2 separate regions of the Homo sapiens genome follow, and region 1 is linked to region 2. Evidence: fine-mapped expression QTL. A gene starts in region 2. The other region holds a variant in brackets. All regions are shown on one strand. Distances are between the middles of the regions. Region 1 holds the start of MIR6877 (microRNA 6877). Region 2 holds the start of GTF3C5 (general transcription factor IIIC subunit 5).

Region 1 (2,500 bases), 21 kb before region 2:
CAGCCTGGGAGACAGAGTGAGACTCCATCTCAAAATAAATAAAATAAATAAAATAAAATAAAATGCCAACGCCAAGCAGCACAGGTCGCTCTCCTGAGCCGGAAGTCCAACAAGGCAGAAGAAATGAGTCTTTCTTGTGTCCTACTGCCTGTTGCAGACCCTCACAGTCATGTCTTACGCTGGCCTCCCCTAATGCTCTGTGAGGCCTGGCAGCGGGGAGGATCCCTTTCCAACCAGCACCTTTGGAACCTCAGTAATGACATGTGTCTTTACATGCTTGTGGATCAAAGGTGGATCTGCCTCCCACTGAACCCCACTCAACACAGGTAGAGGACGACATGGGGCCGCTGTGGTCAGGGGCTGGGTTCTGCAGCCCAACAGGCTGTGGAGGGCGCCCTGGACTCAGGGAGCTGAAACTTTTCTAGCTGGCTTTAATAAGCTGTCTTAGGGATGCTAGGATCGGGGGGCCAGGACAGGGGGGAAGGAAGGATGGGGGTGCCAGGACGGGGGAGGTGCTAGGTTGGGGGCAGGGCAGGAAGGATGAGGGCCAGGCCAGGGGTGGGTAGGAAGGATGGGCCAGGATGGGGGTGGGGCAGGAAGGATGGGGAGCCAGGATAGGGGGTTGGCTGCTCTTACTGTGGCTCTAAGACATCACAGCAGGGACCAGGGACCACATGGGTGGAAACCAAGGCAGGTGGGTGGGCAGCTGACACTTACCATGTAATAGGCTATGAAGGGAAGCAAGACCTTGAGCTTGTCTGGGTGGACGCTGATGTTGGCCTTGACAGCATTTCGGGACCAGATGGGACGGATGTCAAACAGCTGGGGAGGCCAAGGGCAGAGGCTGAGATGAGCACCAGCAGCTTCCACCCTTCGGCCCTGAACTCCCAACATGTTCTGGGCCCCAGCGGCCCCTCCAGAGAGGAGCTGGTAGAGGACAGGGGCTGGACACACAGGGCGTGGCCCTAGGA[C/A]CTCCTGCTCTCACTAATTCATCCCTTCCCTCAGAAGCCTGGGCTGCATGCCCAGCCTGTGCCAAGTGCAGTTGTGGGGCTGGGTCTCTCAAACGATAAGAGACATGGTCGCTGTCCTCATAGAGCCCACAGCGCGGTGGGGAGTACGGCTCAGGGGGCACATGCTAGAGTCCCAGGGTCCCCATGCTGCCCCAATCTACAGAACAGGTGCCTGAGGTGGGACATCGTCAGGGCTGAAGGGGACAGCCTGGCCCGGGGAGGACTGCAAAGGTCAGTGTGGCCGGAGTGTAGAGGGCCAGGGGGCTGGGGCAGCGGGCCTCACGAGCCAATTCAGGTCAGGAATGTGGGCTGTGCCTGGTGGGCAATAAGGAGCCACTGACAGTGTGCCCCAGTGACTGCTGGAAATCAACAAGACATCCACGTGGTCTCCCACAGGCACACTGCGTAAGGGAAGCGCCGGGCTCCAGGTGGCAGTGGCCTGTGAACCTGATGCTCATGCCAGTGGGGACGCAGGACTCCACGGCACCCGCAAGCCCGGGGAAGGAGGGCTGCCTGGCAGCACGGTTCCAGTTCTAACGGTAAGAAAGTGCTGGGCCTGGCACACTAGGTGCCCCACTGGCTTGGCTGCAATGAGTGAATGGAAGAATAAGAGCTCAGTGGATCCCAGAGCTCCACGTTTATGTCACATCTGAACAACGCACGCATATTTTTCTTAAGAACTCTAAGAAGCATTTTCAACCTTGGGAATGTAGAACTTATACCGACACAGCCTTTAGACATGGCATCTGAAGGTGAGAAGTTCCCATGCACTAAGGAATGGGTAAAGGTCAGTGCAGCCAACCCCACAGCCAGGAACAGGGAGCAGCTGGGTAAACACGGGAAGCCAACAGAGAGGCTGGAGCCACCGGGGCCAGGCGCAGCGCAGGACTTGCCTTCCTCAGCTCCTCCTCCACCTTCCGGTCCACGGGGTTAGTGCAGACTCTCCTCCACGTCTGGGCTGCAGCCTCCAGTGGCTGCTTGGGCACCTCCTCATCCTCAAAGTTGACAAAGATGGCATTGTGGGGGCGCCGGGCTCTGCTCAGGCCAATCAGATTCTCACCTGAGATGGGGGGATTGTTGTAGCCTTCCCTGGGGGCAGAGAGTACAGGTGAGAACAGGAGCACCAAGGCCATCCCAGGCACCCGCTGGGCCAGACCAGGCAGGGAGCCCAGAACCCCCCAAGGCCCACAGCCACCGTGTGCCTCTCTCTGGACATCTGTGCTGGGAAAGGACCCCAGAGTTGGCTGCTAAAGGAACCTGTATTCACAGAGGAAGAGACGCAGCCACAACTGCCTATGACAACTCAGAGAAACCCTGGGGCCTGCAGCTCTCAAACTGGGGAAAGGCCAAAAGGTCCTAGAGGCTGGAGTGCAGGAAAGGGCACCTGTCATGGGGCTGGTGGCCCCAAAAGTGCACTGAGTCAGGCACAGCACTGTCCAGCCAGTGAAAAACTGGACAGAGTCTAATGTCCAGCAGCTGGCAATGGTGAA
Region 2 (2,931 bases):
TTGTGCCTCCTTGCCCTTAGTTACCCGCTCTGTTTAACTGCCCTTCCCGCCGAAACTAGTCTTCCCACCGAAATCGCTCGTCCCGTCACTGTAACCCACACCCCTGTTCTATTTAAAATAGCCAATTGAGATTAGCTTAGATTGTGTGGTCCAACTCCAACCAGCAGGGACAGGACACAAAAACAGGGACTGACTGCCTTAGGGATAAAAACCCATTCCAGGCTGGGCACGGTGGCTCACGCCTATAATCCCAGCACTTTGGGAGGCCAAGACGGGTGGATCACCTGAGCTCAGGAGTTCAAGACCAGCCTATAGGACACAGTAAATTCCACTTCAAAGATTTTAGCCTTTTACCTTCCTTTAAATTCAAGAGGGGGAAAATTAATAAATACAATGAGTTATGAGTTCCATTTCAAAGAACCAATATGTCAGTATGTTCAGCTTCCCTGTTCTTTGTTCTCCATTTTAAAGTTTAACCCCTCGTTCTTTACGCCTCCTTGCCCCTAGTTTCAGTAAACAACCCCTTCCTAGCTTCTATCACCTGCTCTGTCCTTAGTCATCCTGAGTCACCTGCTCTGTAACCATCCTTCCCACCAAAACTACTCACCCCGCCACTCAGGCCTGTGCCCCTGCCCTCTTTGAAATAACCAATCGGAATTAGCTTAGACTGTGCGGTCCAACCCTAGCCAATATGGGAAAGACACAGCAGTAGAGACTAGCTGTGTAAGAGATAGGAACCCCTTCCCCTTCCTTGTCGGTGTGCTCTCGCCATTGCTCCATCCGCAAGATGCACCCTTCTATAGAAGGAAATTTGCCTTGCTGAGAAAACTGTTTGCCAGAGTGCTGATTCTTCTTTGCGGCACCCAAAATTTATTTCCAACAAGCCTGACCAACATGGTGAAACCCCCTCTCTACTAAAAAATACAAATTTAGCCGGGCGTGGTGGCATGCGCCTGTAATCCCAGCTACTCTGGAGGCTGAGGCAGGAGAATCGCTTGAACCCTGGAGGCGGAGGTTGCAGTGAGCCAAAATCGCACCACCGCACACCAGCCTGGGAAACAAGAGCGAAACTCCGCCTGAAAAACCAACAAAAAAACAAAAACAAAAACAAAAATCCTTCCCTTCTTTGTTCTGTTGGCTCTCTTGCAGCGGCCAGAAGAGCGAGCAGCACCCTTCTGCGTAAGTAAATTTGCTAAATTTCCCTTGCTGAGAAATCCTTTGAGTGCTCGTTTTCTTTGCGACTCCGAGCTCTTATTCCAACACCGAGATTCCCAGCCCCTTACCCGGGAGACGCCTTCCTCGCCGCCCAGAGTCGGCAGCATCTTAGCCACATCACGCACCACTCCCGGGTACTCCACGCACACCATGCGTCGCTCCCGCCTCAGCTCCACGGGGACGGCGGCCCCCAGCCCCAAATCGGCCGCCTCCGCCGCCATCCCTGTGCGTCTGGCAGGGCCCGCCAGGGTCCGTCCCACAAAGTACTCCCAAAGGCCTCGCCTCAATTGTTCCGCGAAGGAATCGTTCCGGGCTCCCTCACCGCTCGCGTCATCCTAACTCCCCGGGCTCAGCAAGACGCGAGGGCCTCCAGGGAGCAAATGGCCCATGGGAGGGCCCATGTCTTCGGGAAAACGACCGCCGTGTCCTCGACTTTTTATTTAAAATTAAGCGAGTTAGTCCACCGGGCGGGGCAAGCACCAGTCTCTCCTACTAGCCAGCGAGGGACCCGGAGGATAATAAGACACAAACCTCCCTCGACTTCAGCCAATGAGAATCCGAGGGCCGAGCGAGTTTTTTTTTGAGCCAATGAGAAGTCCGGAGGAAGCTAGGTCCCACCTTCTCCTCCAGCTTCGTACGTTTTAACCAATAAAGAACTAGAGTTAACCACGTCCCAGCCCTCTTCTGGGTATTCCACCCAATGACACCTCGGGGGCGGGCCAGAGGCAGACTTCCGGCCCGCCTGCTTGGTGGGGAAAAGGTCCCGGCTGAGAATTGATTTCCGCATTGGGTCGGCCTGGTATTCTGTCGGTGTTGGCGCTTCTTCTCCCAAGCTCTTGCAGCCCCCTCGGGACTAGGTTTCCAACGGCGCTTGCGGGGGGCCTCGCGGAGGTGGATGTGGAAAAGGCGAGCGCGGGGGAACTGTGCTGTAACCATCGCCCCGCCTCCACAGAAAGCCCCGAAGCGCCGGCTCGGGGCCGAACGCGGGCATCCGGCGTTCGTCTGTTAGGCAGGCAGACATTAAGCGCCTACTGTGTGCTGGGCCCTACTCAAGACCCAGGCGGGGAGAACGGCGTCTGTCCGGTAGGCGCCCAGGGCTGCTGCAAAGCCCCGGAGCGAGGAGTGTGGCCCCTCAAACAGGGAGGAGATGAGGTCCGAGGCCGACCGAGGTCAGAGACCCGCACCCACGAAAAGGGTCCACCCGTCGGGCTGGCTGCTTCCCAGTGCCGTGGAGAGCCCCTGAAGGTTTCTTTTTTTGAGAAGGAATCTCGCTGTGTCGCCCAGGCTAGAATGCAGTGGCGCTTTCTCGGCTCACTGCAACCTCCGCCTCGGGTTCAAGCTATTCTCGTGCCTCAGCCTCCCGAATAGCTGGGATTACAGGCGCCTGCCACCATGCCCGGTTAATTTTTGTATTTTTAGTAGAGACGAGGTTTCACCATGTTGGCCAGGCTGGTCTTGAACTCTTGACCTCAAATGATCCGCCTGCTTCGGCCTCCCCAAGTCCTGGGATTACAGGCGTGAGCCACCGCGCCTGGCCCCTTGAAGGGTTTTATGCGGAGCAGTGATCCCATTCATGCATTTGAAAGACCTCTCTGGCTGTTGTGTGGAGAACAGATCAAAGGGGGAGAAAGTGAGTTCAGATAAACCAGCTCCGAGACTGCATAATCCAGTCAAGAGATGAAGGGACTGGGTTTGAGAATATTGGGAGATGAGAAT

What was found. PIP is the estimated chance that this variant, and not a neighbour inherited with it, causes the effect.
Region 1: its variant is fine-mapped to the expression of GTF3C5 in whole blood (TOPMed, PIP above 0.99).

The regions. Positions count from the first base shown.
Region 1 is chr9:133,050,382-133,052,881 of GRCh38, reverse strand. It overlaps GTF3C5 (general transcription factor IIIC subunit 5), which reads right to left. Exons shown (of 11, transcript NM_012087.4): 4 at 1,904-2,099; 5 at 718-822. MIR6877 (microRNA 6877) reads right to left here and starts at 886; the gene lies at 823-886. The variant C/A (reference allele first, on the strand shown) is at 972.
Region 2 is chr9:133,029,517-133,032,447 of GRCh38, reverse strand. GTF3C5 (general transcription factor IIIC subunit 5) reads right to left here and starts at 1,451. Exons shown (of 11, transcript NM_012087.4): 1 at 1,284-1,451. The coding sequence starts at 1,436. LOC105376306 (a long non-coding RNA gene) reads left to right here and starts at 2,026. Exons shown (of 2, transcript NR_135119.1): 1 at 2,026-2,298. RefSeq lists enhancers at 1,431-1,690, 1,135-1,786, 2,021-2,270.